Regions from separate parts of the Homo sapiens genome. Here all the other regions are linked to region 3. The links come from fine-mapping of genetic effects on gene expression. A gene starts in region 3. Each other region holds a variant in brackets. All regions are shown on one strand. Distances are between the middles of the regions. Region 1 overlaps MAPRE1 (microtubule associated protein RP/EB family member 1). Region 2 overlaps DNMT3B (DNA methyltransferase 3 beta). Region 3 holds the start of EFCAB8 (EF-hand calcium binding domain 8).

The links. PIP is the estimated chance that this variant, and not a neighbour inherited with it, causes the effect.
Region 1: its variant is fine-mapped to the expression of EFCAB8 in whole blood (TOPMed, PIP above 0.99).
Region 2: its variant is fine-mapped to the expression of EFCAB8 in whole blood (TOPMed, PIP 0.95).

Annotation. Positions count from the first base shown.
Region 1 is chr20:32,830,033-32,838,032 of GRCh38, forward strand. MAPRE1 (microtubule associated protein RP/EB family member 1) reads left to right here. Exons shown (of 7, transcript NM_012325.3): 3 at 3,685-3,830; 4 at 6,602-6,809. Among named protein-coding and RNA genes, the nearest start is that of MAPRE1, 14 kb to the left of the region's middle. RefSeq lists an enhancer at 2,548-3,048. The variant C/T (reference allele first, on the strand shown) is at 3,148.
Region 2 is chr20:32,776,005-32,784,245 of GRCh38, forward strand. DNMT3B (DNA methyltransferase 3 beta) reads left to right here. Exons shown (of 23, transcript NM_006892.4): 2 at 4,314-4,461; 3 at 5,349-5,410. The coding sequence starts at 4,320. Among named protein-coding and RNA genes, the nearest start is that of DNMT3B, 18 kb to the left of the region's middle. RefSeq lists enhancers at 1,471-2,019, 2,055-2,556, 2,422-2,551, 3,058-3,558, 3,559-4,059 and 3 more. The variant G/T (reference allele first, on the strand shown) is at 3,424.
Region 3 is chr20:32,854,328-32,862,595 of GRCh38, forward strand. It overlaps EFCAB8 (EF-hand calcium binding domain 8), which reads left to right and starts at 4,596. Exons shown (of 27, transcript NM_001143967.2): 1 at 4,596-4,679. LOC119746555 (a long non-coding RNA gene) reads left to right here and starts at 2,305. Exons shown (of 1, transcript NR_171378.1): 1 at 2,305-4,424. RefSeq lists an enhancer at 4,463-5,275.

The sequences.
Region 1 (8,000 bases), 24 kb before region 3:
GCCCCTCTGCATTTTCTCAAGAGCACAGCTTGGTCCTCTGCACATGTAGAGGGGTCTCACTGAATGTATTCGGCTCTCCCCTTCTCCTCCTTGTCTTCTCCCTCCAGCCTGGCTTCCTTTATGGGTTCCTTCGCAGCAAAGGTGTTGATGTTCCCAGGCAAATGGTAGATTCCTTTCTCCTCAGCTTAATGTGGGGCCCCGACAGCCCTTGAGTTCATGTAAGACAGCTTGGCGATCTTGCTTCTGCTGCACTGCTAATGACATGGTCCTCCTGCTCTGGGAGTGTGTTATCACACCTGTAACCAGGCCTCTCCCAGCTCAGATCTGGTCTGATATTTCTGTTTATGGGATACTTTTGCCCTACCTGTCATTACTTAAAATCTCAGCTTTGTTTTCTCCTCAGGCTAGCTCCCTTTTCCAGGTACTCCATTTGGGGCCATGATTCCATCTTTCTTCCAGTGTCCCAGGCCTGAGAAGCATCTTTTGAGGCTAATTCACAGTTTTATTTGTCTTCTGAAAGAGCTTCTAGATCCAGCCCCTTCTCAGATTGCTCACTGCTGCTGCAGTGGCCTCCTGACTGAACACTAAGTTCCCTCTAAGTTCCCAGCCCCCACCTTCCCTTTTGTTATATTGCATAAGTCTGCAGCCTTTCTGAGGGACTGGTTTTATCAAGTCACATTTCTGATCAAGGAAGTATCTCTTCAAACTTTTTTTTTTTTTTTGAGGCGGAGTCTCGCTCTGTTGCCCAGGCTGGAGATCTCCGCTCACTGCAAGCTCCACCTCCCAGGTTCTCACCATTCTCTGCCTCAGCCTCCCAAGTAGCTGGGACTACAGGCGCCCGCCACCACACCCGGCTAATTTTTTTGTATTTTTAGTAGAGACGGGGTTTCACCGTGTTTGCCAGGATGGTCTCGATCTCCTGACCTCGTGATCCGCCTGCGTCGGCCTCCCAAAGTGCTGGGATTACAGGTGTGAGCCACCGCGCCCAGCCTCTTCAAACATTTTTGCCTAAGTCTTCAAGCACCTCCTTGATTTTTCCCTTGCTTTACATAAAGCAAACCAAAACAGAAGATAGGAAGCTCATTTTCTTCTGATTATGAATAGTTAGGTCTTCATTAAAAAAAATTAAAGGCCAGGTGTGGTAGTTCATGCCTGTAATCCAGCACTTTGGGAGGCCGAAGTGAGAGGATCACCTGAGCCCAGGAATTTGAGATCAGCCTGGGCAACATGACAAAACCTTGTCTCTAAAAAAGAAAAAGAAACATGAAGAGAATCATACTCGCATAAAAGTCTATCAGGAGGACTGGATGCCAATATTTATGTAATTGATTCTTTCTCTTTTTAGAAATAGGGAAATAAATAAGAATGTTTCTTTCTTTTTTTTTTATTCCTGTACAATTTTGGTAACCAGTTTCATGCATAAGTTGTTGACTTTTTTTTTTTTTAACTCCTGTGCAATTTTGGTAACCAGTTTCATTCATAAGTCATTGTCTCTTTTTTGTTGTTTTTTTTTTGAGACGGAGTCTTGCTCTGTCTCCCAGGCTGGAGTGCAATGAATGGTGCGATCTCAGCTCACTGCAACCATCGCCTCTCGGGTTAAAGCGATTCTCCTGCCTCGGGTTCCCAAGCAGCTGGGACTACAGGCATACGCCACCACGCCTGGCCAATTTTTTTGTATTTTTAATAGAGACGGGATTTCATCATGTTGGTCAGGCTGGTCTCGATCTCCTGACTTCAGGTGATCTGCCCGCCTTGGCCTTCCAAAGTGTTGGGATTACAGGTGTGAGCCACCGCGCTTGGCCAATTTTTCTTTTTTTTAATTGTGTAAAATAGTACTGGGTAAAATACCACTGTGGATATAGTTGCTGAATAGATTGTCTTCTATTTGGGTTTTTAAAAAAAGTTCGTCCGTTTCAAAAAAAAAAAAAAAAACAAAAGAATGCCCTCAGTGTACTTTTGTTGGATGAGTAAATAAATCAGTCACCTCAGAAATCAAGGCCTTAACCTTCTGAAGATCCTTTCTTAATTAAGAATGTCACCCTGGTCACTGAAGTGCCCCTGCTCTCGTTTATGTTGACTTTCCAAAAATAACGGTAACCGAACATGCTGGAACCAGCAGAGAACTGGTTCGGCCTGACCTCAAGTAAGTTGAATATGCATTTTATGGCAGTCTTGAATTCTGCAGATTACTTATTACTTAACCACTGGTTTAGCTTCCCAAGCTTGTTCCTTTGGCAAATTAGCCCTGGAAGGGCAGTAAAGTACACAGTGAAGCCTGCTGTGAATTAGGAGAGTTCAGTTTGTCGGCATTAGAGAAATAATCTTCCTGGAAAGTTTAAGCAGTAATAAAACACTTTTTGGAAAAAAAAAATGGGCAAGTGGGGGAAGGAATGAAATGGGATGAAATATTGCAATAATTTATTACAGTAGTCTCTTTTTTTTTTTTTTTTTTGAGACGAGGTCTCTCTCTGTCCCCCAGGCTGGAGTGCAGTGATGTGATCATGGCTCACTGCAGTCCTTGACCTCTTGGGCTCAAGTGATCCTCCTTCTTCAGCCTCCTGAGTAACTGGAACCACAAGGGCATGCCAACACGCCAAGCTAATTTTGGTATTTTTTGTAGAGACAGGGTTTCACCATGTTGCCCAGGCTGTTCTCGAACTGCTGGACTCAAGTGATCCACCTGCTTCCCTAAGTGTTGAGATTACAGGCGTGAGCTACGGTGCCTGGCCTTATCATAGTAGTCTTTATTTATTTATTTTTGAGCCAGAGTTTCGCTTTTTTTTTTTTTTTTTTTTTTTTGAGACAGTGCAGTGGCCTGAGAGAATCGCTTGAACTCAGGAAGTAGAGGTTGCGGTGAGCCGAGATCACGCCACTGCACTCCAGCTTGGCAACAGAGCGAGACTCTGTCTCAAAAAAAATAAATAAATAAAAAATTAATAGAGGAACACAAAAATGTCTTCTATTCAACTTTGTTAATTAAATGACGGGTTGGCTGGGTGCTCTACAAAAAGAATAAAAAACTAGTTGGGCGTTGGTGGCACGTGCCTATAGTCCCGCTACTCCAGAGGCTGAGGTGGGAGGATCACTTGAGCCTGGGAGGCAGAAGTTGCAGTGAGCTGAGATTGTGCCACTGCACTCCAGCCTGGG[C/T]GACAGTGAGACCCTGTTTCGAAAAGAAAAGAAAAGAAATGATAGGTTAAATGTATTTAGAGATGTAAAAAGCCCAGGGAGACAGACGTCTTAGGGAAAAAAATGTTTTTTAATCTAGATCAAGGATGGATCTTGGAAATTGCCTCCTGAAGAGGAGGGTATATCTTTGTGAAAAATCAGAAAATGTCACTTTTGTTATTTTCTTTTCTGTATTTTAGGCATTCATTTTTGTTTCTAGTGGTCATTTTATTGTCATGATGATTACCAATAAAGAACAGGAGTTTTAAAATTTTGTAGAAACACTCCTTTTCTCCTTGTTATAGGCTTCTGGGTTGCAAGTATGTTGTAGAATATATGGGGTGAAAACCACAGTCTTGTTACAGGTTTTAGAAATTGACTTCACATGAAGTTAGTGAAGCTTTTGGTTTTTGTAGGTCTACTTCACAATTTTAAAAATTGTATTTGGTTTAAGTGGGTCTGGGAAGAAGTTCACCCTGCTTCTTTAATTGTATTTTTCTGTTGCCGTTGTTCTTTCAGGGGCTGCGTATTGTCAGTTTATGGACATGCTGTTCCCTGGCTCCATTGCCTTGAAGAAAGTGAAATTCCAAGCTAAGCTAGAACACGAGTACATCCAGAACTTCAAAATACTACAAGCAGGTTTTAAGAGAATGGGTGTTGACAAAGTAAGTAAACGTTATCTTTTATTGTGGTTAATGTTCCTTAATGATCGTTACTAAGGAGGTAGATGCTAGCTTATGACTTTGGACATTTTCTTTTTTTTCTTAATTTATCTAGTTAACTTTTCTCAGTTAACACAGAATTTACTGGGAGCAGTTTGCCCCTACCTTCTTGCCCCTATTCCCCTTGCTTGTTTCTTTCTTCATCGTCTGTGAAGTTAGTAACTGTTTAGAGGAGTCAGCCTGTAAATTTGTACAGTGATTTTTATTTTTAAAAAATTCCTGTGTAATCTCTAGTAGTCTGGAATCTAACTCTCTTAATCTGGATTTACTTCTGTAAAAGCATACTGTATGTAGAATAGTTCCAGTAGAGAAGATTCTAGGCCAGGCGTGGTGGCTCACACCCGTAATCCCAGCACTTTGGAGGCTGAGGTGGAGAAGATTCTAGAAATACTTGCTTTTTATAGAAGGTTACAAGGAGGCTCCGTGGTGGGTGCTGGAAAACTCCTTTCTGCCCCCAAAGGTTTTTGAAGGTAACAGAAACATGGTCCACCAGGCATGGTTTAGCACAAACATTTAATGTTTAGCACAAATATTACCTCTGTTTTAGTAGATAATAGATTAAGTAGTTTATCCCTTCCCCCACCCTTGTGAAGGGTTTATCCTTTTAAGCCATTTTTGGGGGGATAACTTTTTTTTTTTATGGCAAAGGTAGTAACACCCCCAATTATCTTGCTGGTGTCTGGTTTTTATTTATTTTGAAATCAGGGTTTTTTTTTAATTTTAGTTTTGTCTCTACAATATATAAAATAGGCATTTATAGTATAAGAATATCACTTAACTTTCCAGGCATAGTTTAAATAGAGTTCATATACAGTAATTTTGCATTCATTATTATGGAATTTTATTTTTTGAATATGGAAAATGTCTAAAGTATATAAAAGTAATAATAGTGTATAAACAATAAATAGTAAATAGTGTAATGATCCCTCATGTAACTCAATGGTTAGCATGGCCAATTTTGTTTTATATCTAATTCTATCCTATCCTATGTATTCTGGGTTATTGAAGTGAGTACAGAGGTAATATTTGTGAATGTTTCAGTATCAAGCAAAGTAACTTTTAAAAATTATATTTGTCAGAGGGGTGGATATATTATTGGATATATTCTTTTTATAATACATTGCAACTGGAATCTTTGGAGATTAAAAGATAGTTAAAAGCCAGGCATGGTGGCTCATGCCTGTAGTCCTAGCTACTCTGGAGGTTGAGGCAGGAGCATCATTTGAACTCAGGAGTTTGAGGCAGCAGTGAGCTATGATTGCAGCATAAGACTCCAGCCTGGGCAACAGAGCAAGACCCCATCTCTAAAAAAGATTAAAAAGTTAAGTTGTGGCCAACACTTCAGTGATTTGAATACTTGAAAACACAGTATTCTTGTATAATAGAAATACTTACAGGGTCCTTATGTATATTTGTTATTTTTTGTGTGTGTGTTTTTATTGGTGTTTTTTTTTTTTTTTTGAGATGAGGTCTTGCTGTGTTGCCAGTGCTGGTCTAAATTCCTGGACTCAAGCAGTCCTCAAGATAGCTAGGATTGCAGGTGGGCAGCCCTGCCCCCAGCAAGCATGTTTTAATAGGATTTGGAATTACTTGGAAAACATGTCATTTTGTAAAAATTTATCCTGAGACTGATTCTGCATCTTGATCTATTTTCAGGTTAGAATTATTCTTTTTTCTTTTCTTTTCTTTTCTTTCTTTTTTTTTGAGACAGAGTCTCACTCTGTTGCCCAGGCTGGAGTGCAGTGGTGCAATCTCAGCTCACTGCAACCTCCACCTCCCGGGTTCAAGTGATTCTCGTGCCTCAGCCTCCTGAGTAGCTGGGATTACAGACGCCCGCCACCACACCCGGCTAATTTTTGTATTTTTAGTAGAGACAGGGTTTCACCATATTGGCCAGGCTGGTCTCGAACTCCTGACCTCAAGTGATCTACCTGCCTTGACCTCCCAAAGTGTTGGGATTACAGGTGTGAGCCACCACGCCCGGCCCAGAATTTTCTTGAACACAGTTCATTGTAGATGCCTTTGGTTGGTTTGTGCAATGGATTTTTCTTCCCTTTTCTTAAATGGGGTCTCTCTCTGTCACCCAGGCTGGAGTGCAGTGGCACAGTCTCGACTCACTGCAACCTCTGTCTCCTGGGCTCAAGCAGTCCAATCTCAGCCTCCCAAGGAGCTGGGACCATAGGCGCATGCCACCACACCTGCCTAATTTTTTTGTATTTTTGGTAGAGCCTAGGTGTCACCATGTTGCCCAGGCTGGTCTCAAACTCTTGCCCGCCTTGGCCTCCCAAAGTGCTGGGTTTACAGGCATGAGCCACTGTGCCTGGCCTGTGCAGTGGATTTCATGCTTTGTGATAGGCATTGTGGCCATGCAAGTTATATAGCGGACCTACTCTTTATAGCATAATGCACTTTTGTATCACGTCTTACGATGTGCTTGGATGGATGTGTGTATGTGACTTATATGGTACTTGTTCCTTTTTTGTTTCTGATTCCTTTTCATACATTTGAGAGAGTGGGGAGGGGTTGGGAAGTGTAGGTACTCTTGAAGGCAAACTGCATGAAACTTGCTTTATAAATTTAGGGGCTTAGCCCTAAGGTCTCTAAAATATTTTTTTCTCCTTTTGGCAGAGCTTTATAATGAATTGATGCATGGACTAGTTTGATGCTTGCCAAAAGCCTCTTTTTTGGGGCTAAACAGTTGTTTTTCTCTGCAGATAATTCCTGTGGACAAATTAGTAAAAGGAAAGTTTCAGGACAATTTTGAATTCGTTCAGTGGTTCAAGAAGTTTTTCGATGCAAACTATGATGGAAAAGACTATGACCCTGTGGCTGCCAGACAAGGTCAAGAAACTGCAGTGGCTCCTTCCCTTGTTGCTCCAGCTCTGAATAAACCGAAGAAACCTCTCACTTCTAGCAGTGCAGGTAAAAAAACAACCCCAAAACGTTTCCAAAAAATAGCGTTCCAGATATTCATTCAGCGTTCAACTAGAATTTTTTTCAGTAGCCATAGGCTTAGGGATCTTAAGAAATATAATCCCAGGCATGTGGCCAGAGTATGGATTTTGGCATCAGGCAGATAACGGTGTGTGTCCTTAGGTGTCTGTAGCCCTGTGTAAGCAACTTCAACTCTGCCCCACAGTTTCCTCCTCTATAAAATGGGAATTTTAATACTTGCCCCAGAGGGTTTTTGAAACTTGAACAAGTTACTGTATGCAGTTTTGCCAAAGCTCTAGAAATCCATCAGGCTAGCTCATGTAAGAGAGCATTAGTTTGTTCCAAAACAAGGGCATTTTTACAGAGCCCTAGGATGGGAAGTTATACCAGAGCTGAACTCCTTGAAGGAAGTGTGTAGGTCTCTCAGGGACTGCTCTTGGCTGTCTGTGTTATTCTCTCTGTAGACCAGCTTCCTGTGTATACTCACAGCTTCCCTACCTGCCCTAGAACTTTAGCTGCTAGGTGACTTTGGCTTGCCATGGTGCTAGCAGAGTCAGGGGCGGGGGTAGGGGAGAGGCTGATTTTACATACCTTCTCAAAAGGGTATGGGCTTGGTAGCTTTCCCAAGATGTGTTTACATTAGTATAGAATGTGTATATTTTGGGGCAGGGTAGATACTCTACAGATGCTAATTTCTTCTTTTCCAGAGGATGGCAAGAATATTAGTTAAGGTTTCATAATACCTAGAGAGAGGCTTGTTCATCTGATAGAGAGGGTAGGTTGAGTGCTTTCTAAATAGCTTAATGGAGAGACAATTCGCATGCCATATAATTATATTTTTATATTTAAAGTATAAAGTTAAACGGTTTTTAATATATCCAAAGAATTGTGTAACTATCACCACAATCAATTTTAGAACATTTTCATCACTCTGAAAAGAAACCCTGTGCTGGGCGCAGTGGCTCATGCCTGTAAATCCCAGCGCTTTGGGAGGCTGAGGCAGGCAGATCACTTGAGGTCAGGAGTTTGAGACCAGTCTGGCCAACATGGTGAAAACCCATCTCTACTGAAATACAAAAATTATCTGGGCATGGTGGTGCATGCCTGTAATCCCAGCTACTCAGGAGGCTGAGGCAGGAGAATCGCTTGAACCCAGGAGGTGGAGGTTGCAGTGAGCCA
Region 2 (8,241 bases), 78 kb before region 3:
GATCACCTGAGGTCAGGAGTTTGAGACCAGCCTGGCCAACATGGTGAAACCACGTCTCTTCTAAAAATACAAAAATTAGCCAGGCATGGTGGTGCAAGTCTGTAATCCCAGCTACTCGGGAGGCTGAGGCAGGAGAATCGCTTGAACCCGGGAGGTGGAGGTTGCAGTGAGCCGAGATCGCGCCACTGCACTCCAGCCCAGGTGACAGAGACTTGATCTTAAAAAAAGAAAAAAAAAAAAAAATCCATGGTGGTAGACAGTGTTCAGCCTACAGTAAGTAGGGCCCTGGGAACTGTTAGCTACTTAATGTTACAGTGGCAGTGTGGGATGATGCAGTTCTAAATCCAGCATGTCTGCCACTCTGGATAGGTCATATTAGATAAAGCAGTTGGCTTGTGATGGGGGCCATGTTATCTGGAAATGCCAGCCTTGAATCATGAAGTCAGTGAGATACATAGAAAAGAGGTGGGGGAGATTTGTATCCACTGGTACACACCTGATGCTAATTTAATTTCTCTTGTCCTGATTCTAAGAACATGTAGTTAAATTTGTATGTTATTTACTTTCCCTATATATTGATCAAGGAGGTAGTATGTCAGTCTCTGTCTTGGTTTCTCCATCTGCAAAACAGGAATAACAGTACTTACCACATTTAAAGGTTAAATGAGTTAAGATAAGTAAAGCCAAAACAGTGCCTGACACATAGTAACACTGAAAAAAAGATGACCTTATTGGGGGGATTTTTATATATTTATATATGTGGGAAGAAAGGCCTAGGAGAGAAGCTTTTATTCCTGGATTTTGAGCTGTGGGTTTTGAGGTCTGAGAAAGGAAGCAGGAGGTGTAGGGAGTTGGGGAGGGCTTCCAGGCTGAGAGAACACAGCAGCACATGCCTCGAGGCTAGATTGTCTTGGCCTGCGTGTAGACTGAAGCGGGGTGGGGGAGGAACTGAGCTGGGCATCTTTAGTCATGGGTGCAGGTTCTGAAGTTGGTGTGCGCTGTCTACACAGCTGTGGCTATAAGGCAATGAGGGTAGTTAATTTCACTACAAACGTAGGGTCGTGATAAAAACAGAAGGAATTTTAAATGAAATCACATTGAATTATGCAACGAGAAGAAAGCATATATAAGTGCTCAGCTTGCTCCTGGGGGACACCCAGGTAGCTAGTGCCATTTATTGTGGGTTTTCTTCCTGGACTGTCTCTCCAGTACCCACAGGTCTTGTTCTAGGGGCTTGAGGCTTTTCCTGAATGTTGAGATATGGGTTTTGGAAGGTGTGCTGCCCACACGTTGGGTAGGCTGGTGGCCAGTTGGCACTGCTGAGGCCCTGGGGGAAGGCCCAGGGTGGTTAATCATTGTCAGCCTGGGTCTGTCTAGGAGGTGAGACTCCTGTCTGGCTTCTTGTTGACCCAGTTAGGGCCTGTCTGAGGAATGGGGTTCAATGTTGCCTGCGAAACCCAGCACACATTAGAACCCCAGGCCCTGGATGAAGGCGAAGGAGGTCACATCCTTCACTCCAGGCCTCTGGTCTGCTACCAGCTCCTGGCCACAAACAAACCCTGTGTGTCCTCCCCCCAGAGCACTTTGGGGAGGTGGACCCTCCTGGAGACACCAGGTACACCAGGTAGCCCCACCTCCCACTCTATGCCAGGCCCACTAGGTTACTTAGTTCACTGATTTGGCCTGAGGTGAAACGCTTGAAATTAATGATTATTCTGAACCGACACCGCAGCAGCTTTCCTGGGATTCTGACTGCTTTGTCTCATAGGAACTGGCCATAGGTCAGCCAGCCTGTTCTTCCGGGTCAGGGCTTGGGAGAAAAAGGGCTGAGAAGCAGCTGATTGGTCTGATTCAGGCACGTCCCTTGTCCTTGGTAGGGGAAATTCCTTAACAGGTGCTGATACACACTCTGGATCATGTGAAGCACAGAAAGCCTATGTGTTATGTATCAGCGCACATGTTTATAATCTGAACAATGCTGCTTTAACATGCATATTAATCACCTAGGCATGACTTGTGTGTGTTAAAATGTCTTGTGAAAATCCCGCTTCAGGCCGGGTGTGGTGGCTCACGCCTGTAATCCCAGCACTTTGGTAGGCTGAGGTGGGCAGATCACGAGGACAAGACATCGAGACCATCCTGGCCAACATGGTGAAACCTGTCTCTACTAAAAATACAAAAATCAGCTGGGCGTGGTGGCGCATGCCTGTAATCCCAGCTACTCAGGAGGCTGAGGCAGGAGAATCGCTTGAACCTGGGAGGCAGAGGTTGCGGTGAGCTGAGATCGTGCCATTGCATTCCAGCCTGGCGGAGGTCGCACCACTGCACTGCAGCCTGGCGACAGAGGGAGACTCTGTCTCAAAAAAAAAAAAAATGAAAACCCTGCTTCAGGACATCTAGCTTAGTGGTGGAGATTTCTCCAGCCAGCTCCCACTTCCAACAGTTCTTCCAAGCAGCTCTCAGTTCATGGTACTGTAGCCTGCGTGGCTCCTGGGCCACACAGGGAGTAGCAGCAGAGGTCCAGTTGCCCCATGCCATGGGCAGGTGCAGGGTCTGGAATTGGGAGCTCTCACCACAGATTGCACCTCTGCCTGGGGGCGCCACTGGGCTCATCAGACTGAGCTCACGGTGCCCCCTGGTGGGCGATGCCAGTGGCGCCAGTGCAGCTTGGAGCCCGCAATACAAGGTGTGGCTTCTAGAAGGTACCCTGGTTTGAGATGCTGAGGTGGGAGGATCCCTTGAGGCCAGGAGTTTGAGGCCAGCCTGGGCAACATAGCCAGACTCTGTTTCTACAAAAAATTAGCCACACCTGGTGGCACACACCTGTGGGCCCAGCTGGAGGATCACTGAAGCCCTGGGAGTTGAAGCCTACAGGGAGCCGTGATCACGCCACTGCACTCCAGCCTGGGTGACCAAGTGAGACCCTGTCTCTAAGATAGATGGATGGATGGATGGATGGATGGATGGATGGATGGACAGATAGAAGATAAACTGCGAGGCTAGCACGGGTTGTCTGGCAGGGGCTGGTATGTCTCCACGATGGAGCCCGAGGCAGGGAGGCCCGGTGCATATGGCAGCAGCTTATTGGGGAAGCTTTTCCCAGGCACGGTTCCAGGACACAAGGGTGTGGTGTGAGTGACCTGGAGCTGTTTGTGGTTCAGGGATGGGGGCCTGGAGGTCTCATTATGCCTAGGCTTTTATAATATTTTTGCCAACCAAAGGTGGAACAAAAAGCAAAGGCAAGTGACTTGGAAAACTCGGTTTCAGCGGGGATTTATGCCCTGAAGTTTTTTACTCGTTCTCTATCTAATCCTGGCCCTACCTCTTAGATGGGCTATATGACCTTGGAGAATAACCTAGTCTGGATGTCAGTTTTCTTTTTCTAGAAGGTGAGCTCCCCAGTCTCCCTAGGGGGAGATACAG[G/T]TTGTTGCATCCAACAAAATCTGTGTGCCCATAATGTTGCAGGCAATGGGCCAGCCCAGAGGTTATAGCCTGCCAACCCATCCGTATGGCCCTGGCCCTGTGTGTTAGCTGATTTACCTGACCAGGAGGGGCAGCAGTGGGGAGGCCAAGTCCCAGAGGTGAGGGTGAGGCTACAATGGATCTGGGGAGTCCCCCTCCTGGTAACTGCCCCCAGGCTTTCTGCCTGTGCCTCCATCCTTCCCTCCTTGGGAACTTGGGACTCTGAGCCCCAGCTGGTGAGGGAGGAGGGGAGTGAGCGACAGGCCAGCAGACCAATGGGCCCTGGAGGATGGGGTGAGGCGGGGCTTGTGCTGCCATGGAGAGGAGAGAAGCGGTTCTGTGGGGGAGGAGGGGGTGGGTGGGAAGAGGACCTGGAGATTGAGGGGAAGGGAGAGAGCAAACAAAGGGGTCAGGAGGGAAAATAATGCACTGGCTTCCTGAGCCCCTGCAGAGGCTGAGCAGGGAGAGGGGGCCAGGGCCAGAGGGGACAGAGGCTGGCGGCAGACGGGCCGGGACAGGCAGGTCCTAAATGGCATTGTTTGAAGGGGCCGGCTAATTGCACAGAGCAGTCTGAGCCTGAGACCCCAGCCCTGGCCTCCCCACTCTGTCCTGGGTGCTGGCGTCTGAGCCTTCGGGACAGCCTGTCCACATGGAACCAAGTCCTGAGCCTCCAAGCTTGGTGAGGGGGAGGCTATGGGGGGCAGCCTGGGTGGGGTACTTGGGCAAGAGCATCACCCTAAGAATGCATCCTGGGGCCTTGGCCTGAGAACACAGAGCCCATGGCGGGGGAACACTGTCCCTCTCATGTCCCTGCTTCCCTTTCACCCCACCCATTCTGGCTTCTCCCACAGGAAAGCATGAAGGGAGACACCAGGCATCTCAATGGAGAGGAGGACGCCGGCGGGAGGGAAGACTCGATCCTCGTCAACGGGGCCTGCAGCGACCAGTCCTCCGACTCGCCCCCAATCCTGGAGGCTATCCGCACCCCGGAGATCAGAGGTGGCTGGGCAGTGGGGACTGGGGTGGTGTCAGGCGCTGACATAGTGAGCGGTCACTGCAGACAACTGGAGGCTTTGGGGAGAGTCTCTGACAACCTCCACCACAATTCCCCGGGAGGGAAGAGAGCTCTAGCAAGGAGGGATGCAGGGTCGAGCCCTTCACACCTGCCCGCAGCCCTTGGCCTCCCCTTTGGGACTCTCATCTCAGCTGGGACTCTGAGCGTGACACAAGGGTGATGGTTCCCTGTCCTCTGCCAGTCATGACAGGGGTGGTCTCAGCATGGGCCCTTGGAGAGCCCTTCTGCAGTGGGACCCTCTCCCCACTCAGAGCTGGGCTGGGGTTGGGAGGGGGAGGTCTGGAGTGTGCTTCCTTTCCACCCTGCCCTGAGCAGCTCCAGCCAGCTCACTTGGGATCCCGCCCCAGCTGGGTTGGAAAGCCCTGCATTGTCCTCTCAGCTGTGCCATCCCATGGAACTTCCTGCGAGCGTGAAAGGGTTCTATTTCTGCATTGTTCCCCACAATAGCCACACTCTACATGGGAGCACTTGAGAAGCGGCTGACACAGCAGGCAGTGAATTGTTCCTGGAAATGTAGTTAGTGGTCCCTGGATGGGCAGCACCCTGCTGGAAGGAATCGGAGGGCTCCCCTTGGTAACTTCAGTGTTGGTTTGGGTCCTGTCACGTGCCTGGCCCAGGGCTCTGTTGTCTTAGGAATAAAATCAGTGGAGAAGATGAACGATACTGACGGACTGAGAGCAAATCCCTGTGGCTGACAATAGTGTAGGGGAGATCCCAGGCCACGCCACGGAGAAAAGCCCCTATTAGCAAGGCCGTTCCCCAGACTGGTGCCTGCCCCCACAAAACAGACTCCTGGCTGTTTCCTCTACAGGCCGAAGATCAAGCTCGCGACTCTCCAAGAGGGAGGTGTCCAGTCTGCTAAGCTACACACAGGTATGGTCTCTGCTCTCCCTTTTTCAGGGCTCAGGGACTTTGTCTTTGGCTTTCATCACGTGGGCTGCCTGAGGCCCATAAAAACTGGCATCTGCAAATGTATGGAGGGTTGCCGAGCTAGATGCTTTCTGCATATATTTGGCATTATTTTTTCAATCTGGACGATCAGTTACATTGCTAAATCTCTAATATGGTAGTCCCCTCTTATCTGTCATTTTGCTTTCCACGATTTCAGTTGCTTGCAGTCAACTGCCGTCTGAAAGTATTAAATGGAAAATATTAAATGGTAAATCCCAGAAATAAACAATTTATACATTTTAAATTGAGTGCCATTCTGGTAGCATGATGGAATCTTGCACTGTCCTGCTCCGTCCTGCCCAGGATCAGTCCTGTCTTTGTCCAACATCTCTATGCTTAGGTGCTACCTGCCTGTTAGTCACTTGTAGCCGTCTCCGTGATCAGATCAGTTGCAGTATCACAGTGGTTGTGTTCAAGTAGTGCTTGTTTTACTTAATAACGGCTCCAAAGTGCAGGAGTGATGACGCTGGCAATTCAGTTATGCCAAAGAGAAGCCATGAAGTGTTTCCTTTAAGTGAAAAAGTGAAAGTTCTCAAAAAGGAAAGAAGAAATCATATGCTGAAGTTGTTAGATCTGTGGTAAGAACAAATCTTCCAGCCGTGAAATCATGAAGAAGGAAAAATAAATGCATGCTAGTTTTACTGTTGCACCTCAAACTGCAAAAGTTATGGCCATGTTGTGTGATAAGTGTGTAGTTAAGATGGGAAAGGCATTAAATTTGTAGGTGGAAGACATGAACAGAAATATGTTCTGATTGACAGCAGTGCTTTGTGCCAGGGAGCATTGAGCCTATAGCAAGGGATCCCCTGACACCAAACCATTTACTTCAAGTAAGGGATGGTTACATAGATTCAAGAATAGGTTTCTACTGAAAACTATAAAAATGACTGGAGAGGCTGCATTTGCCAATGAAAAACCTGCTGCTACATTTTCAGAAGAGTTGAAGTTGATTGAGAAAGGAAACAATCCAAAACTAAGACTGCAGTGAAACCAGACTCCTCCAGAAGATGATGTCTAATAGAACCTACCTTCATAAAAGTGCAAAGGAGGAAGACACTAGGTCATAAACCATGGAAGGACAGATTAACCCTGAATAGAGTACAAGAAGATATTTTGAGAGAGAAACCACATTCATATGGCTTTTATTAACAGTATATTGTAATTGCTCTATTTTATTATTAGTTGTTAATCTGTGCCTAATTTATAAATTAAACTTTATCATAGGTATGTAGATATAGACAAAAACAGAGCACATATAGGGTTCCATCTTCCAAGGTGTCAGGCAGCCATGGGGGGTCTTGCATGTATCCCCCCTGGATAAGGGGAGACTACTGTATAGCAAACTGTCTTTTTATTCCTGGAATGAGTCCAACTTGGTTATGGTGCATTTTGAAGTTGATTTTATTCATGTATTCATGAATGAAATGGGTATTTTTTTTTATTCATTTATTTTTGAGATGAAGTCTGTTGCCCAGGCTGGAGTGCAATGGCATGATCTCTGCTCACTGCAACTTACTGCCTCCCAGGCCCAAGCGATTCCCCTGCCTCAGGCTCCCGAGTAGCTGGGACTACAGGCAATGGACCACCATACCCAGCCAATTTTTTTGTATTTTTAGTAGAGATGGGGTTTCACCATGTTGGCCAGGCTGGTCTCGAACTCCTGGCCTCAAGTGAGCCACCTGTCCCGGCCTCCCAAAGTGCTGGGATTACAAGTGTGAGCCACCATACCTGGCCCATTTTATTTCTTTAAATATATCTATGGTTTTGATGTTAGGATTAGGTGGGCTCAAGGAATTTTTTTTACAAGCTGGAAGAAACTTGTCTAAGCTTATTTTAATGAATTTCAAACAATTATATCTTCTAAGACTTGCTACATTATCAAGCTTTCTACTTCATTTACTTTTCCAAGGTTGGATCTTTCCCATCTTGTTTTGTGTTCCTTCCTTTACTGACACCGTCTGTTTCCTAATTATTCTTAGTAGAGTTTGTCAATTGGGTTGGTTTTGCTCAGAGCCAGTATCAGTCATAAAAGTCCTGGGCAATGAAAACTCACCCTCAGCTTCCATTCTCTTGGTGGTGGCCAACCTACTTAGGGGACTCAGAAGGTGGGGAACCTAAGCCCTGGGAGGAATTAGGGCAGCTGCAGGATCAGAGGCTCAGCACTGCTGTTTTGTTTCTGGTAGCTAGTTACCAGAAACAGTAATGAAATCTCTTGCCCACACGTTTCTTTTTGTTTGTTTGTTTTGTTTTGAGACAGAGTCTCCAGTCTGTCGCCCAGGCTGGAGTGCAATGGCACGATCTCGGCTCACTGCAACCTCCGCCTCCCAGGTTCAAGTAATTTTCCTGCCTCAGCCTCCCAAGTAGCTGGGCTTACAGGCGTGCACCACCATGCCCAGCTAACTTTTGTATTTGTATTTGTATTTTTTTTTTTTTTTGAGATGGAGTCTTACTCTTGTTCCCCAAGCTAGAGTGCGGTGGCGCGATCTCGGCTCGCTGTAACCTCCACCTCCCAGGTTTAAGCGGTACTCCTGCCTCAGCCTCCTGAGTATGAGTAGCTGGAATTACAGGCACATGCCACCATGCCCTGCTAATTTTTGTATTTTTAGTAGAGACAGGGTTTCGCCATATTGGCCAGGCTGGTCTTGAACTCCTGACCTCAGGTGATCCACCCGCGTCGGCCTCCCAAAGTGTTGGGATTACACGCCTGGCCTAATTTTTGTATTCTTAGTAGAGATGGGGTTTCACCATCTTGG
Region 3 (8,268 bases):
TGTGTATCAAAATTGTAAATAACTCTCGTTTCCTTGTATTGGAGGCTCTCAGGTTCTGAAATGTGAAATGGAAATAGCCTTCATAGACACGTTTCTGAGTGTGAGGAGGCAGTTCTTTGTCCTGTGACCATTTGAAAGCAAACCAGGTTACCCACCAATGCCTAGAACTTTGTAAGTGGCATCAAGATATAAATTTATAATTGTAAAATAACCTATCAGCAGTTTGGGGCTGGGTGTCATGGCTCATGCCTGTAATCCCAGCACTTTGGGAGGCCAGTGCAGAAGGATTGCTTGAGCCCAGGAGTTTGAAACTAGCCTGGGCAACATAGCAAGAGACCCTGTCTCTATTTAAAAGATTTTATATATATATATGATCATATATAATATATATAAGATATATATGATCATATATATAATATATATATATATGATCATATATATCTTATATATATATATGCAGTTTGGAATTCTATTTGTCTTGCCTTATTTGCTTTTTAAAAATTTCTACCTTAGTTTTTTCCTGGTTTACTTTGAGTGTTTTTTTGTAGTCGGAGGAGATTGTTGGTGCGGCTGGGTGTAGGTATGAGGCAGAGGAGGAAGAGTAATTTATTCCATCTACTGAGCCTTTCATTTACTTTCTGTTTTAGCAGTAGAGTGGGATGTCGGAAGCTTTTGTTGGGTGAGAGTCAATCTGTCAGGGTAAATCTTAAAAAGCTGGATTTGTGGTTTAGTTACTAGTTACTGTGTCTCCAGTGGAGACAAAGATTAGTTTTTAAGATTTAGCCTTAATGGATGATTCACAAATTGCAATGCAGAGTATTGAAGTTAAGTCCAAGGTCAAGCACACAAGTGGGTAAAACTGAACATATGAAATGGGTGTGTGGCTGGCACCCACCTCTGACCTTTACTGAAATAAATGAGGAAGACGGTGCTGTAAGTGGAATGCCACGGACCAGGAGTTAAGACCAGAGTCCTCTGCTAGGCCCTGCATCTGAAGTCTGCAGAGCATGGCTTTTCATTGGCTCAGTGAGGAGTTGAGTCCTGGTTCAGAAAAAGTTACCGAGGTCTGTAAAAGTCAGTAGGATACCGGAACAAGAAAGAGTGGGAGAGTGTACAGTTCCCAGCGAACATTGCCAGTGGAGGCTAATTTTCACCAGTGAAGGGCGATTTTGATAGAAAAGCACAGTGTCTCAACTACTTGTGGTTTTTGATTCTGAAAGAGGAGGCTTTGGCAGGAGCAATAATACACGTGGCCTACCACCTGTTTGGCTTTTTCCCCACAGGTTGCAAGCTGCAGGGAGGGCCTTGCTAATTCTAGTACCTCCATCCCCGAATCGTCTAAATGTATTTTACCCAGGACCTGTCATGGTTTATCTGAGTGACCAGTTTCCTTTCCTCTCTTGCTTATTTATCATGTTCATATTTATATTTTTCATAATGGGGCCTATTTATATATTTTGAAGTAGTTCTAGTGATTTTAAGATCCAGCAAAACTTCAAGGTCATCTGGATTTTGGTGTTCTATTTAAGTTTTCTAACTTGATACAGTCTTTTTTTTTTTTTTTGTATTTTGTATGTTTTTCTACAAAATGTGAGAGAGTTAAGCATGTATAATTACATATGACTGCTGTTTTCACTTTGAAATTTTAAATCCTGCTTGGGAGAATGGAATAAGCTATTGTGTTTTTTGCAGGCAGCTATGGGATATCCCAATTTGTCCCTCCCTCCTCCTTAATTTTGAAGCCTGAGAGAGGAAGTAATAATTTTCTTTTTTTTTTTTTTTTTTGGTAGGGATGGGGTTTGACTATGCTGTGCAGGTTGGTCTGCAACTCCTAAGCTCAAGTGATCCGCCCTCCTCCGCCTCCCAAAGTGCTGGGATTACAGGCCTGAGCCACCGTGCCTGGTCTGAAGAAGTAATAATTTTAAGATTCAGTGTTGAGTGAAATAAATGTATTCTTAAAAATTTCTAAGAGTGTTTAACTCTCTGACCTAATATTTAATATTTTCCCCAATCATTAGGAAGTGCTTTTTTGTTGTTGTTGTTGTTTTTTTTCCAGGCAGGGTCTCGCTCTGTCACCCAGGCTGGAGTGCAGTGGCATGGTCACGGCTCACTGCAGCCTTGACTTCCCGGGCTCAAGTGATTCTCCCACCTCAGCCTCCCAAGGAGCTGGAACTGCTCAGCTAATTTTATTTTTGTAGAGACAGGGTCTGGCTATGTTCCCCAGGCTGGTCTCAAACTCCTGGGCTCAAGCAGTCCTCCACCACTCCTGGCCAAGAAGTGCCTTTTTTTTTTTTTTTTTTTTTAAAGTAGCTGCTGAACACAGGAGAATCTGCCTTTTTCTTGAATCGTGGTTTTTTTGTTTTTTTTTTTTTCAAGACGGAGTGTTGCTGTTGTCGCCCGGGCTGGAGTGCTGTGGTGCGATCTTGGCTAATTGCAACCTCCGCCTCCCAGATTCAAGCGATTGTCCTGCCTCAGCCTCCCGAGTAGCTGAGATTACAGGCACGCACCACCGTGCCTGGCTAATTTTTGTGTTTTTAGTAGAAACAGGATTTCACCATGTTGGCCAGGCTGGTCTCAAACTCCTGACCTTGTGATCCACCTGCCTCGGCCTCCCAAAGTGCTGGGTTTACAGGCGTGAACCACTGCACCCGGCCTGAATCATGGTTTTTTGAAACCATTGGCATCTGAACCTGTAGCTCTCTCTGGTAGTGTTGTGTGGTTTTAAATGTCATGTGAGCTGAGTTACTGACCTCAACCTACTGCCAGATGAAGGTGTGATCCTGTGATACCAATCTTGAGGGTCCCTTCTAGTTTTAGCAGTCAGTGACTTCTCTTGTTTATTTTTGTTTGAAAAAGTAAAAGGCTCTCTTTTTGGCTATAGAGTTGCATCTTGAAATTTTTGACAAATTACATAGAGCTGAAGAAGGATACAAGTTTTGATATCTTAAAATCACAGGGTTGAAGCTTGAAAGGACAGTATTGGCATTGCAGCTAAGTGGGAGTGTGAGGAAGCGCCTTCTCTAGGGCAGGTAATTGCATCTGTTAATGTGGTCCTTGGGCCCCTGAGTTGCTGCCTTCCAATCAGAATTCCCTTAGCATTAGCCAGTGACGCCTGAATTAATCTCAGGTAGGACTTCTAACTTTTTTCCAAAATTATTTTTGTGCAGAGGTTTATCTAGATTTTTCTTCTAAATGTCCTCCTCCCCACTTGTTTTATTATTACTGTTTTTTTCTCTCTTTAATTTTTTTTTTTTTTTAATAGAGACATGGTCTCACTATGTTGCCTGGGCTGATCTCAGACTCCTGGGCTCAAGTGATCCTCCTGCCTCAGCTTCCCAAAGTGCTGGGATTATAGGCGTGAGCCATTGCGCCTGGCTCTGTTACTGTTTTTCTAACCTGAGTTACTTAGGATCATATTTTCATTCTTTTTTAAAAAGATGGGAGTTTTCTGAACTTTTCCTTAACTAAAAAGTGGAATGCATCTTAATATTTTCCTTTTTTTACTTGTGTTTCTCCCCAGGGAGGGAAAAACATATTTATTGTGACAGAATTTAGCATATTTTAGGCCACATTAAAATACTGATAAATGTATTAATCAGTGAAAATAGGTTATAGTGAAAAATATATACCATTTGATTAATAAAAATGTTATTGGAAAAATGCAAGAACTGCTGTAAGAATTGCTAACATTGTGTTGGAAAATAAATATACTAAGCTAAGAAACAATGGGAAACTGTCATATGTAGGGCCAACAGCCTTTTTTTTTTTAAACCCTTCCAATTTATTAATATCTAGTCTAATAAACCCTGATTTATAGGACCTCTGCACCTTTTTTGACTTTTTATTCATCCATTCTTAATATTCTACACTATGACAAAATCCTTAAAACTCCATTATTGATGAAATGGGAACAGACTTTTGTTTTTGTATGTTGGTGTTCTCTGAGTGGTGAAGGCCCAGGGAGAATGTTTTGTTTGGTGGTCACTTAGCATTTGAAAACATCCACTTCCTTGTGACTTAGCTGGGTATCTTTTAACATCTGGAAGCCACGTCCCTGATTGAAATCTCTGGAGACAACTTACCTTTCACCAACTTGTCTGCCAAATTGCACCATGGACCAAGATTGCAGTGGCTGCATCAAGTCTAGGCCTGCCCTGAAGTCTGGATTTGTAAGTCCCCCATTTCAAATGGGGCAGAAGGCAGAGGAGCAGAGGAGCCACTGTGCCTTTCGCTGTCCTGGAGCCAGTTGGCCTTCTGGTTTTGGTGAACCCTGCTTTTATAAGAGGACTCCCTGGCATCTTCCAGTTTCCCGCTACTTGTTTTATGTATTATTTTATGTCTGTGTTTGTCCTGGAGTGCTGTAACTCCTTTCACTGTCTGCTGTAAGTTCAACTTCTTCAATAAAAGAAATGTTTCAAATTGGATGAAAAATGGTTCTGTGATTATGGTTTGTGGGACGGGTTCTGATGCTTCATTTATGTTCTTCATACGGAATTCTGTCTCATTTCCCTAGTTCTAAATATGACCAGCAGACCCAGAGTTCCATCTCGACTTCATAAAGGAGCTGTCTTGGACTGGGAACAGCTGCCAATGTCTTTGTTGAGATGGGAGTTGGAAAGTGTTAGCACTTTGCCAGACTTTGCCAGCAAGATTAACTGAGGAGATCAAATTGAGTCAGGGTGAGTGAGGGTTTTAGGTGAAAGTTGCTCTCCAAAAGATTGGATACCTCTGCTGAAGACCTCTGCCTGACCTCCAAGGCTGGAGAGCAGCTCTTATCTGTGTCCTGGCTGGCTTTCAATGCATGTATCCTTAAGTCATCTGCCTCTACAAATTCGTACAAACCACTCGTTCCCCTCTCATCCCTAGCATGTTCCCCTAGTGGCTGCTCTGAATTCTCACCCCTGTTCTGGATGGTACTCTCCCACCTGCCTTGCCCTGCCCCTCTTCCGTCAGCTCCGGACAGGTCAACTTTAGGGAATAGATTGAGGCAGATGGATGTGACTTCTGATCTGACCTGTTCTCCAATTCTAAATATCAACCGAGTTTTACATCTCAGCCTTCCCTTCCTTCCCTTCAGAGTTGGAGGAATGGTACTTGTCTTGGCCTCTCCCCTCTTGCTTTTGCCCTTTTCTTTTGGGTGGTCTCTGTTGGCAGCAACCAGCACTTTTTTTCCCATTTGGCGTTTTACCTCTGTTCATGAACATACATAGAACCACTTTCTCCTGGTGAAAGACATTTATCTTACAAAATATTTAGTTTTGAAATAATTAAAAATATATAAATAGTTGTAAGACTACTACAAAGAACTTCCCTTTGTCCAGATAGACTAATTGTGAACATTTTGCCACATTTGTGTTATTATACATGTTACTTGTTAAACCATTTGAGAATTACAGACATCATGCCCTTTTACCCCTAAATACTTTTCAGTGTACATTTCCTGAAACAAGGACATTCTCATAACCACAATACAGTTATCAAAAGCAGAAAACATTAATATGCTATCTAATAATATAGAGTCCATGTTCAAATTTTACATAATTTCACCAAATAACAGCCCTTGCAGCATTTTTGTTTTTTCCCAATCGGATTCAATTCAGAATCGTGCATTGCCTTTAGTTGTTGGGTCTCTTGAGTCACCTTTCATCTCTAACAGTTCCTTAGCCTTTCTTTGGTTTACATGGCATTTTATTTTGGCCAGGCGCGGTGACTCACGCCTGTAATCCCAGCACTTTGGGAAGCCAAGGCGGGCGGAAAGCACTTGAGGCCAAGGAGTTTGAGACCAGCCTGGCCAACATGGAGAAATCCTGTTTCTACTAAAAATACGAAAGTTAGCTGGGCATGGTGGCGTGCACCTATAATCCCAGCTACTGAGGAGGCTGAGGCATGAGAATCATCAGAATCTGGGAGGTGGAGGTTGCGGTGAGCTGAGATTGAGCCACTGCATTCCAGCCTGTGACAGAGTGAGACTCTCAAAAATAAAAGCAAAAAAAAACCCAGTTATTTTGTAGAATATCCTGTAATGTGGGTTTGTCTGTTTCCTTATGATTAGATTCAGATCATGTATTTTTTTGGCAATAATACTACTGAAGCATTGTGCCCTGCATGTATCGGATCAGGAGGTGTGTGATGGATGTCATTTTGTTCCATCGCTGATGGTGGTAACTTTTTTTTTTTTTTTTTTTTTTTTTTTTTTTGAGATGGAGTCTTACTCTTTTGCCTAGGCTGGAGTGCAATGGCACAGTCTTAGTTCACTGCAACCTCCACCTCCTGGGTTCAAGCGATTCTCGTGCCTCAGTCTCCCGAGTAGCTGGGATTACAGACGTCAGCCATTGTGCCCAGGCTATTTTTTCATTCTTTTATAAAAATTGGCATCATAGTGTGCACCCTTTTCTGCATCTTGGTTTTTTTATTTATTTATTTTTTTGAGACAAGGTCTCATTCTCTCACCCAGGCCCTGGAGTGCAGTGTTGTGATTACAGTTCACTACGGCCTCAAACTTCTGGATGCAGGTAATCCTCCCATCTCACCCTCTTGAGTAGCTGGGACTACAGGGGAGTGTCACCATACCCAGATAATTTTTTGTATGTTTTGTACAGATGGGGTTTCACCATGTTGCCCAGGCTGGTCTCAAATTCCTGGGCTCAAGCGATCTTCCCACCTTGGCCTCAAGTGTTGGCATTACAGGTATGAGCCACTGTGCCTGGCCTGCATCGTGCTTTTCTTATTAGTACTTCATGGAAATCTCTCTTAGCTGCTGGAAGTCAGATTCATCCTTCTGATGTTTGGGTGACGTCCTAGGTGCAGATGCACTGATTTGTTCATTTCTGTGTCTATAATGGTTCACTTTTGGTTTTTGCTCCTATGAATGATGCTGCAGCAATCACTCTTCAACAGTGGCCTTTCACAAAGGAGTCATTTAAATTACTACCCACCATCCTACCCACTCCACTGAAACACATTTTATTTTATTTTTTTGAGACGGAGTTGCGTTCTTGTTGCCCAGGCTGGAGTGCAATGGCACAATCTCGGCTCACCGCAACCTCCGCCTCCTGGATTCAAGCAGTTCTCCTGCCTCAGCCTCCTGAGTAGCTGGGATTACAGGCATCCACCACCACACCCAGCTAACGTTTGTATTTTTAGTGGAGATGGGATTTCTCCATGCTGGCCAGGCTGGTCTTGAACTCCTGACATCAGGTGATCCGTCTGCCTCGGCCTCCCAAAGTGCTAGAAGTACAGATGTGAGCCACCGCGCCTAGCCGTTGAAACACATGTTAAAGATTGCCATGAGCCTGGTGTGGTGGCATGTGCCTGTTGTCCCAGCTACTTGGGAGGCTGAGATGGGAGGATCACCTGAGCCCAGGAGTGCAAAACCAGCCTGGGCAACATTGCAAGACCCCATCTCAAAAGATCGCCATGAACCCTTTTTTAATTAAAATAAAAATCAGAGAATTGCATGATTTAGGCTATAAACATCTTCCATAATCTCACCTACCAGAGATGACTGCTATTAATTTTGGAGTATATGTTTCCAGGCTCTTTTTTATGCATGTGCCAATATGCACATGCATATATTCTTAACAGAAATGAACTTAACATTTTACATACACTTTAGTTTTTTCACTGGTAACCTCTTAATTGCCTTTTTCAGTGGCTGTTTCTTTCCCTTATCACCTTAGGTCACTTTGTAGCGTCCCATTCTCCTAGCTGTCTTGTGTGTTTCTCCCTCTTTCTGTCCTCTAAATGTAGCCACTCCTCAAGTTTCAGTCCCCAGATTTCCAGATACTTGTTTTTATTATTTCTTTTCTTTTTTTTTTTTTTGAGACAGGGTCTCACTCTGTCATCCAGGCTGGAGTGTAGTGGTATGATCTCAGCTCTCTGCAGCCTCAACCTCCTGGGCTCAAGTAATTCTCCCACCTCAGCCTCCTGAGTAGCTGGGTGTATAGGCATGTGCCACCACACCTGGCTAATTTTGGATTTTTTGTAGATGTGGGGTCTCAATGTTGCCCAGGCTGGTCTCAAACTCCTGGATGCAAGCGATCCTCCCGCCTCGGCCTATTTTTTATTCCTAATTGGACAGCCTAGTATCACATGCATTAAAACCACTTTCCCTCTTTGCTCCTTTTTCTGAAAGTGGTTCTGGCATTTCTGTTAGCTTGCTTCTTGGCTTCCAAATCTCCTTCCCTTAGGCTGTCCTCTCTCCTTTGGTCCTTAGGTGTGAGCTGTTGCCAAGACACTGCTAGATTAGAGCATTCTTGGGTACCGTTC